Regions from separate parts of the Homo sapiens genome. Here region 2 is linked to region 1. The links come from fine-mapping of genetic effects on gene expression. A gene starts in region 1. The other region holds a variant in brackets. All regions are shown on one strand. Distances are between the middles of the regions. Region 1 holds the start of ZAP70 (zeta chain of T cell receptor associated protein kinase 70). Region 2 overlaps ZAP70 (zeta chain of T cell receptor associated protein kinase 70).

Evidence for each region.
Region 2: its variant is fine-mapped to the expression of ZAP70 in unexposed skin (GTEx, PIP above 0.99).

Annotation. Positions count from the first base shown.
Region 1 is chr2:97,710,586-97,715,952 of GRCh38, reverse strand. ZAP70 (zeta chain of T cell receptor associated protein kinase 70) reads right to left here and starts at 2,377. Exons shown (of 14, transcript NM_001079.4): 1 at 2,279-2,377; 2 at 1,959-2,037. RefSeq lists enhancers at 1-364, 1,596-2,569 and a silencer at 4,543-4,732.
Region 2 is chr2:97,737,571-97,742,882 of GRCh38, reverse strand. It overlaps ZAP70 (zeta chain of T cell receptor associated protein kinase 70), which reads right to left. Exons shown (of 14, transcript NM_001079.4): 11 at 5,218-5,312; 12 at 4,986-5,126; 13 at 4,776-4,888; 14 at 3,023-3,508. The coding sequence ends at 3,385. Among named protein-coding and RNA genes, the nearest start is that of ZAP70, 27 kb to the right of the region's middle. RefSeq lists an enhancer at 2,824-3,323. The variant G/A (reference allele first, on the strand shown) is at 2,634.

The sequences.
Region 1 (5,367 bases):
CCCCGAGGCAGGGCCCACGGCTCTGTCTTGTTTTCTATGGAAGCTCCTGCTTCCTCCCCACAAATATTTGTCAAGTGTGTAAGGACAATCACAACAGCCTCTGTGCTGGGGACTGCACTACCCTTTGCGAGCATTAGCCATTTATTCTAATTCTCACCACAACTACATTTGGTGGGAACTGTTATCCCACTCCTCAGCTAAAGAAACTGAGGCTCGGAGAGGTCAATGTCACTCTCAGAACATGCAGCCTGCAAGGGGCCACCAGGATTTGAACTCAGGTCTGTCCAATGCAGCAGCCAGCACTAACCACTCCAGCAAATGTCTATTAGGAGACCCTGGAGAGCTGGGCTGGTGCGGGGTCAGGGTCAGATTCCCCAACCCAGCACACTCTCCAAGTGTCTGTTGATTGAACAATGCCCTTCCACCGCCCCTCCAGTGAGGCCCCCAACTCCGGCCTCCACTGCCTGTGTGACCTCAGCAAGCAGCGGTCCCTCTCTGGGCCTCAGGCTCTGTGACTGTAAAAGGGAGATGGGAAAAGGCGGTGTGAGTCAGGAGGATAGGGGCTGATAGAGACAATGGAACAGGGTGGGACTGTCCTGGGCCTTGTAGGCTGTTCACAGGATTCCTGTCCTGGACATGCTGGATGCCAGTAACACCCGCTGGGTCACAACCCAAACTGTCTCCAGGCACTATCAACTGTCCCAGGGAGACGGGAGGAGGTAAAATTGGCTCTGATGAGAATGGCTGCCTTAACCCTGTACCTTGGGGTGGGGCAGGGAGTGGTCAGCACGGGGTGGTCTGGGTGCTGCAGCCCCGGAGAGCATACAGGAACTGTGGAGTCCAGAGCCCGAGGCCACCCAGAGCTAGTGAGGATAATGAGGGTTTTAGTGAGACCTTTCTGCAGCACCTGTATGTGCCGGGCAGTGTGGATACAGTCACTCTCTTTATCCTCCCGAGAGCCCTGGGAGGGAAGCACAGAGAGATGCGGTGACTGGTCCAGTCACACAGCTGGTGAGTGGCAGAGCCAGAATGTGAAGCCAGGCCCCCAGGCTCCAGAGTGTGCACATCAACACCACCCCCGCAACACTGCCAGGGCAGTGGGGCTGAGGATGGAGGGCAGGTGTGAAGAGGAAAAGGAAGCTCTGGATTCAGCAGGAGGCAGCTTCACAGGTGGCACCTTAGGAGTCCCTGACCCTGATCTCTCAGCAAGGCATTATTAAACACCTCCTGTCTGCCTACTGTTCCAACCAAGACGAGAGTAATGAATCATCTCGAGCTGCTCACCTCATGAACTCCTGTTCCTTCCTGTCGGGGATGCTTCCTACCTGGGACACATTTCCCAGCCTCTCGCCAACAGTCAGGAACCAGGCGCCTGCCAGGTGCCCATATCTGCATGTGCATTTAACAGATGCACAAACTGAGGTCAGAGAGGCCAAGCAACTTGCCGAGAACACACAGCAGTTGAGGAGAACTCGGTGTTTTGCTCTTTCTCTCTCCAGGTCTTCCTCTAACCTGAGCTCGCCTACAAGTGGCTCAAGCCTGCCCTGGACTCCTCACAGGAATCACAGCATTCTGCTGATGGAGCTCACGGCCCTGGTGAGCAGCCCCCTCATCTTCACAGAGTGCACATGCGCTTTCTCTGGAGGTTTCTCTGCCTCCGAGAGCCAAGGATGCAGCCAAACAGGGCCCAGCAGGAGCCCAGGGACTGAGCAGGCCTCACCGTGTCCCCTGAACAGCCCCGCTCGGCCAAGCCTCTGGAGGGGGAGCTGCTTCCCTCAGCGTGGCCACAAGCCCCGTCTGCCTCCATCTCCAGCCAGTCACCACCCAGCCCAGTCCTCCAGCTCTCCTGGTCCTCCCAGCAACCTCCTGACTCCCAGTTAATATTCTGTCTTCCTCCTCCAGACACAGCCCACCATGGAGACGGTGGCCAGGTGCCACTCCACCCAGGCACCACTTACCTGGGGACGTACAGGTGGATGTCCAGGCAAACAGGCCACTTGCGGGGTCTCTGGTCCCAATGCCAATGGAGAGCCGGTTCTGGGTGAGGAATCGGGGCTTACAAAGCCGGTTTGGATTTCCCTGCAGCCCAAGCCCCCAGCCTGAGAGGGAGGCCCTGCCGCTCACACTCTCCGCACACACCCCGGGGGAGGATGTCACACCCCGCCAGGGTTTCTCACTCATGGATGGGGGGGGTTCATCCTCTGCCAGGTCTCCCAGAGCCCCCTGGGGTGGCCCTGGTGGCAGGACACAGGCAGAAGGCCCGAGGACAGCCGCTTACCTGAATGCCCCAGCAGCAGCTCTGAGGCCCACGGTGGGCCAGGCCTGCCCGGAAGGCCTGGTGTCTGCTGAGCTCCGGCAAGCAGGCTTGTCTGAAACTAACCTATTTCCTGGATGCGAAGACAGGAAAGGGGGCTGTGTTTGATGTTTACATCAAAGTCACAAAGTGCTGTGCTCAAGGAAAATCACAGGCCACGTGCTCCAGGGAGGCAGAGGGCATTTCCGGGGCCCAGCACTGCCTGCCCAGCTGCAGGATGGGACTGAGAGATGGGAATGAGGCTAAGCAAAGGCAGGGTTTCAGGAAGGACGACTCCAGCAGCAGGAACCGTCAGAAGGGAGGAAGCCTGCATACCTGGAACCGGAGGGTAGGCAGCAGTGGTGGGAAGGAGGGGAGTCCCAGGGCTCATGGAAACTGGAATGCCCCCATTTTCCCCTCAAAGGGGCGTCGCCCTGGGGCCTGCACCAGCTAGACAACCCAGAGGAGTGATTTGTTTATTCCACAGGCAGGTTAGAGCTGGAGGGAGGAGAAACCCACTGAGTCAGCCCATACCCCGAAGGTGAGAACCCCTTCTGTGCCAGGCATCTGGATGGCAAGGACAGCCTGCCCTTGCTCTCCAGTGGCTCGCAGGCTTGTTGGGGGCAGCTGAGTCCACAGGGAGCCAGGGCTGGGAGGCCGGAAGCCTGGGCACTGTGTGTCCCCAGAGTATCCCCAAGCCAGCCTGGAGGATGTCAGGGATGCGTTCCAGGAGGAGTCAGCCACCCAACCGAGACACAGAGCCAGGGCATCCCCAGTGCTAGCCCGGCCCACCTGGGACCTTTCCCACGAAGCTGAACCTGGCTGAGTGCCATCCCGCTGTGGCCACCACCTCCTCCTCCTCTTCCTCTCCTCCCTTCCCTCACCCTGTGCACCCCCTACCCTTGGGCCTGGGGCCACACCTCATGCACTCTCTCAGAGAGGGGCCTGCAGAGCCACTCCCTCGGCTCCATCTCCCCTCTAGTGCCCCAAGGCCTCTGGGAGCCCCTTGCCCACCACCTCCTTGCTTTCTTGGGCACTAAGGGAGTCGTCACAGCTCTCCTGTCTGTGGGGCCTCAGAGACCTGTGTGGAACTGCCCTGGGCCCACTGTGGAGACTCCTAAAGCTTTTCTTCTTGGGGTCCTGCTGCCCTTGTTAAGTGGGCTTGTGATACCCTACCTTGTTTTAACCTGAATTGACTCTCCCTTAGCTAAGAGAGCCAGACAGACTCCATCTTGGCTCTTTCATTTGCAGCCCCTTACCCACCCCGCTTCCTCAAGGACTTAATTTGTGCAAGCTGACTCCCAGCACATCCAAGAATGCAATTAACTGATAAGATACTGTGGCAAGCTATATCCGCAGTTCCCAGGAATTCGCCCGGTTAATAGCACCCAGAGCCCCGGCGTTTGTGTCCGGTTGATAACGCCCAAAGCCCCGTGTCTATCACCTTGTGATAGATTTTAAGCCCCTGCACCTGGAACTGTTTGCTTTCCCGTAACCATTTATCCTTTTAACTTTTTGCCTGCTTTACTTCTGTAAGATTGTTTTAGACCCCCACCTGTCCTTTCTAAACCAAAGTATAAAAGAAAATCAAGCCCCTTCTTTGGGGCTGAGAGAATTTTGAGCACTAGCTGTCTCTCAGTCGCCAGCTAATAAAGGACCCCTGAATTCGTCTCAAAGTGCGGCGTTTCTCTGTAACTCGCTCGGTTACAACAGGCTCAGCTCCCCAGTCTGCCTGAGGATCCCCTCACACCCTACCCCGAAGCCTCCTTGGGGACCTCCTTTCTGGCCCTCTACTATCCTCTGGCCGCCTGAATCCCCTTTAGAAAATCTGAGTTCCGGCTCTAGGCTACTTTTCTCCTTCATACAGCCCCCTCCAAAATGGTGTTTGCTAGCAGCCTCCCTTTTCCCCAGCGGCATCTTGAAACTCCAGGTGCAGCAAGCATCCCTTCACATCCATGCTGGACGCTCATTTCTTGGAGTATTGAGAGAAAAAGACACCGGCACCCTGAAGAGAGGAGAAATTACAGCATCAAATCACATTCATACTACAATAATGAGAGTCGCACTGATTATGTGCCAGACATTGCTGTACGCACATCACAATTAATAAGCCATTCAACCTATTTTCCAGATAAGGTAAGTAAAGCCCAGAGAGGTTAAGAGATGCCAAGTGGCCAGGTGGGATTGCAGCCCAGGCAGCCTGACCCCACCCACGTGCTGCTGGACATAAAAGAAGAAAACTTTGGTTGTAAAATATCTCCCCGAAGGAGGCCAGCGCCCCAGGGAGCTGGAAGCTGAGCCAGCTATGGGACAGGGTGCCTCTGTGTGGGTGGGGGGCTTCCAGTTTCCAGGGTCTTCAGGTCCTGAGAAGGGGATTCCCAGCCTCTGCAAGGCACTGGCCCTACAACCCTTGAGCCCCCCACTTCCTGTCCCAGAGGCTGGTCTGGAAACTACAAAGCCCAGTGCTCAGACAGCTCTGAGATTGGGCTACAGATAATCCGAGATTGGCATGCAGATAAGGTCCTCTGTTCTGCCAGAGTGGAAGGAGGTGGATGCATCTTTTGAATGTTTACAGTAAAGGGCAAACGGATGGAAATGTGGGCTAGGAAAGTTGCGGTGCCTTTGCCTCATCGGGTTGGGGTAAACATTCACTCTACTCATGCCAAGAGCCTCGAAGAAATTCATCAGTCACCCCCATATCCTCAGGTCTTTGCCCACACCTCTTCACCTGCCTATTTCCTAGTCCTCTTTCAGGTCTCCAATTAAGCGTGTTTTCCTCCAGGAAGGCTTCCCAATCCTCAGACCGGGCAGGGATGGGCTTTCTGTCCATTTCACCTGGAGCTGAGCAGGTCCAATCTGGCTGCACAGTTAAGAGAACACAAGCCACTGCTGGGAGACGTGCAGCAGGGAGATAGGGTGGAGGCTCCAGCAGGCCCGAGAGGAGATACACCCCAGTGCAATGAGCCCCAAAGGAAACAGGTCCATCCAGGGCCCCTCCTGGATTCCCTCTGGGTGTACAGAAAAATGGTGACTTTTTTTTTTTTTTTTTTTGAGACGGAGTCTCGCTCTTTCAC
Region 2 (5,312 bases), 27 kb before region 1:
GCCAATAGAGTTGCCTCTTACATATTGGCCTTGGGATAGTGGGCATGTTGGGTCTGTAAACCAAGTCCTCAGAGCCTTGGTTTCCTCAACTGTAAAATGGGTTCAAGAGTCCCCACCCCAGGCAGATGTTTTGAGAATTAAACAGGAAGTTGTGTGTTCGAGGCACCCAGCACATCAGAATTGCCTCCCACAAATACCTTCCTGGGGCTTCACAGCCCTCTAATTTGAGCTCAGAGATACCTCAGACAAGGACAAAGCTACAGGCACATGGGACCCCAGCCTCCAACAGAGAAGAGAGAAATTTGAAACCCTGAAGGGACAAAAGGTGAATGGAAGCAGAACAGGAAACTGATTCACCATATCCTCACCCATGTGGCCACAGGGCAGCCTACGCCCTTGGCCTTTTGCTCAGAGCAGAGGATGGGGCCTGAGAAGGTGCGAGCTCTGTGCTGGGCATGAGGCCATGAGACGTTCACAGCAAGAGGTGGCATCTGTCAAGCTGGCGCACATCTGAAAACACTGCTCAACTTCGCCACTTACAAGAGAAATGCTAATTTGTCTTAATTTACACAATAAGATATTTTTCCCATCTAAAATTAAAAAATGTTTTTAAAATGGTAAAACCCAATGCTAGGAAGCCGTGGACCTGGTAGATGGAGATGTTAGTTGCTTCCTGGCCAAGGAGTCAGGAAATATGAAACAAAGAGGATGTTACTGACCTCCCATCTTGATCACCGCACCAGGCCTTGCGTTTTCTTCCCATTTCCAAACTCAGCCTTCCAGCCCCGCCAAAACCTCTCTTTGTTTCCAGAAGGACATTCTCTCCCACTACACACTATTCCTGCTCCCTGGGATACTTTCTTTACGGTCCCCAACCAAATGTCACTCACCCTTCAGAACTCAGCTAAGGCGTTCCCTCCTACAGGAAGCCCACCAGATTGGCCCCTCTCAGCTGGCTCAGGAGCTTCTCTGGACCTCCAGGGCCCAGTGGGCTGCCACCATGCCAGTGGTTATCACCCTGAGCCTGTGTGCCTCATGACACACGTCTGGAATAGGCACATGATCAATAGAGGAGGAGTGAGATATTTGGAGAAGAGGTGTGCTCTGTATGGTCTTGGAACGGTAAAGGGAATGGGGGTCAAGGTTGGTGTCAGCAGCTGGAAAACCTTTCTAAGAATTGTAACTCACTTACCAGCCCAGGCTGCGTTGAGAGGTAATGGATGAGCTGCCCATCACAGGAGGTGTGCAAGCAGTGATCAGAAACTGCGTCCCTCAGCCCCTCTCCTCCATACCCAGGGAGCCTGGGCGGGGAGCTTTCCTAGCGGACATCACCCGGGAGGGAACGGGGAGCTTTCCTCGGGGACATCACCTGGGGGGGACGGGGAGCTTTCCTAGCGGACATCACCCGGGAGGGGACGGGGAGCTTTCCTAGGGGACATCACCCCGGGGGACGGGGAGCTTTCCTAGGGGACATCACCGGTGGGGACGGGGAGAGCTTTCCAGGCAGCGGCAGCGGTGAATGCAGAGGCCCAGAGGGGAGTCCGCGTGGGCGCTGGAAACCCTGGAGGAGGGTGAAGGGGCTTGGTCAGAGCCGCCAAGAGAAAAGATCCTGCAAGCACCTTCCAGGGGACTGTTGGGAAAAAGCTGAGTGTTGGGAGGGAAACTGAGATGGGGCTTGCATGACTGAAATAATGGCCTCTGGAACGTGTCTAGACTTGCTGGCTCCTTGCTTCTAGCCTTCCTAGGCTCCTAGATCGATTGTATTCCCATTATCTCAAGTAGCAGAACATGTTCCGTAGAAAAGCTAAACCATCACAGCTGTAAATCATGTGCTTAATGCAACGTGTCCTTTTGACAGCCACATTCTCACCACCTGTTTCTTTGTTGGATTACAAATAAATACCGTGGGCTCCCAGAGCTCAGGGTCTTCGCAGCCTCCATGATGGCGATGACCCCCTGGTGTCCCACTTTTATCTCTCAAACTGTCTTTTTCTCAATCCTTTGACTCTGCCGGACTTTGTCACCCCCACGACCTGGTGTTGGGTCTGATCACCCCAACAGGGGACAGGAATGGGGACCTGGAGGTGAGGGCCTGAGGTCGTGCTGCTAGCGGAAAAGGAGACGTGCAGAGGTGAAGCAGGCAGTGAGGGCGGGATTGACCCCAGCTGGCCTCGGCCTCTGGAAACATCGCCACCTGGAGAGTGCTCTGCGGAACTGCACCCTCTTTCGTTGGTTCCTCAGCGGACATCTCTGGTGGGTCTGTTAGCGTTCCCAATGTACTTGACACCCATTTTTTAATGCCTCCTTCTTATAAAATAAGATTACTTTCATCAATAATGATGACATGAAACATAATGATGACCAAAAGGCAATGAAAGCCACAATTCATTTACTGTCTGATATATTTTACATAATGTAAGTCGTTCAGCGACTCACAAATGAATTTTAATAAAACTGAACTACCTGCAAACCACGATTTAAGAAACCACTAAATTGATGCAATTTGTCTTAATTCGTTCATTAGCTTTTAAAACAATTAATTTAAAAACAATGTTTGCATTTTGGTATTTTTCAGATTCAAATTCAGTAATACGGTTCATACGGGAGCTAATACGTGCATCTACCAATGAAAA[G/A]CATTGTATCTCATGATTTGCAAGGCACCCCTGGGGGGGTGAAGACCCCAGCTGGATGGGGGAGGGGGGGTTAGCGTTTGTTAAAATAGCTCCAGGTGATCCTAACGTGCACCTGGCATGGGGCACACTCATCTCCACACAGGGGAGCTGGGCTCAGCCAGGCACGCAGCCCTTGGGCCCACACCCGCCTGGCCTCAGGTTCCCCACTCCACCCCAGCCGCTCACTCACATGAAGGTGTCCCTAGGGTGGAGAGTGGGACCCAGCCCCATCTTCCCAGGGGTCACTTCCAGGCTCAGTCCACACAAGAACAGTCACCTCCATGCACTTTTCATAACCCACCCCTCCCCTGACACCTACCCTCACCCCGGAAAAGATGAGGGCGCTCAGACAAGAGGGAAGCTGGGTTTATTCTGGTGATCTACGCCTGACCACCTGAGGATGCCCAGGCTCCAATGTCAGGGCCCAGGGGAAGGCATCCGTGTAAGCAATGCCCTCAGCTCAGGGCCCTCCGGGAGCCACCAGCCCAGGACAGGCTGCACAGCCGCACCCTCCCGGACCTCCCTGCTCCCCAGCCAGAGAGGACAGGGGGCCAGGCAGGCAATGCAAGGCCGGTGTGGCCTGAGACACCCCCTACCACAGCCCAGCTGTGTGTGGAGACAACCAAGCAGGGCTCAGCCAGACTGCAGGACCTGGGGTGGGGCTGAGGGTGGGGAAGAGCCGGCGTGGAGGGCTCCCCTGGGCAGCGGGAGCTCAGGCACAGGCAGCCTCAGCCTTCTGTGTGCTGCCTGGGGGCCCTTCCACCTTGCTGGCCAGGCTGTAGTAACAGGCTCGCATGCGCTGCTCCACGGTCAGGAAGTCGGGGCGATCCTCCCACCTGTGGGGCGTGGGGTACATCCAGGCTGCTGACCACGCCCCCAGGACCCAGCTTCACCAGTGGGTGGGCATGCACTGTGCTTGGCTGAGGTAGACTTTTGGGGCTCAGAAAGTCAGCAGGGCTGTTGGGGTGGCGGGACATTGGGTGGTGGAGAGGACTCTGGGGTGTGAGAGCGTTGGGCAATGCCACACAGCCTAAGGAGGCAGAGCTGCCCACACACAGGGTGCTGGGATGACCCCTCTACCGAGCGTTGACCAGTGAGGACTCAGGGGACTGAGTGGACTTGGTGTCAGAGTGGCAACTATTGACCACGGGGACCTGGGATATAGAAAGCTGATGCTCTGTGCATGCACCTGGGGCCAGGGTATCAGTGTGCTGGGGCTTAGATGAGAGGGAGTGCAAGGCTGGTGATCAGCAGAAGCCTGGAGCATGGCAGTGGGTCTGGCCAGCGGGGAGCGGCAGTATTAACGGTACTGTGCATGGGGTATCCATGGACTGTGTTGGGGTGCTAGGTGCTAGCCTCTTTGGGTACTGGGGTGTGGTGCCCTGGGTGTTTCCTGATGGAGGTGGAATTAACACATGTCGCAGGAGGGTGGGCCAGCCAGAGAGGGTGTCTATCTGTTGGGCTGCTTGGGTGTTGGGGTGTCAGCATGCTAAGTGCTGGCCGGTGGGGGGTCATGCGTTACAGTGTCCACACATTGCATGGGCAGTCTAGGGCGTCCGCTTGTCTGGGGGTGTGTTGCCTGTTGTCTGATGGGAAGTTGGGATACTGATGGTGTTAGGAGTTGAGATGTCTGAAGGTTGGGCTTCAACCAGGCAGAGGTGGGGGCTGGAATAGATGAGTATTTGGTACCTCAGTGCTCACCTGTCTGGTAGTTGGGTGCTGTGTGCTGGCTGGTGGGGACTGGAGTGTTGGGTACTGGAGAATCATCTCATGCCCTGAGTGTCAGTGTCATAGGTTGAGTAGCAGAGTATGGACCTGTTTGCGTGTTGCAGGGTCCATGTGTTGAGTGATGGCTGAGGTTTTAGATGCTGAGGCACAGGCCCACAGGTGGGATGGCAGGGTGTGGCACACTGGAGCAGGACAGCAAACCCTGGTGTGTTGGAGAGCTGGGTGTGGGGGTAGGGGGCAGCTGCAAAGGCTATGAACTGGGTGAAGGGCTTTGGGTGAGATGACATTGGGTAGAGTTATATTGACATCAACTCATCGGGCACCAGGACTTTCCAGGGGTCAGCCCAGCCGGGTCCCCTCCCCACTGGCACTCACTTGTAGATCCAGCAGTCACTCATGAGTGCGTACAGTTCGGGTGGACACTCTGGTGGGCACTCCATCCGCTTGCCCTGCTCGATGAAGGCCATGACCTCCGGCCCTTTCATCTTCTGCTCAAGCCGGGGCAGAGACACCTGTGAGTGACCAGTGTCCTCCTCCTCATCCCCCTCCCCACCACACCGCCCACCTGCCTCTGCCCGCGCCTGCCTTGTAGGGCTTCTGGCCGTAGGACAAGGCCTCCCACATGGTGACCCCATAGCTCCAGACATCGCTGCGGCTGGAGAACTTGCGGAAGTTGATGCATTCGGGTGCGTACCACTTGAGCGGCCACTTCCCTGCTGAGCGGGCCTGGGGAGGGGGAGATGCTGCTGGATCAGGGGTCAGGGACCCTCTACCCACCCAGCCCATCCAGTCGGGCATCACAGGGGCAGAGGCTTACAGTGTAGTAGCTGTCGTCGGCACCCAGTGCTTTGGAGAGGCCAAAGTCGCTGATCTTGGCGTAGTGCCGGTTAACCAGCAGGACGTTGCGGGCCG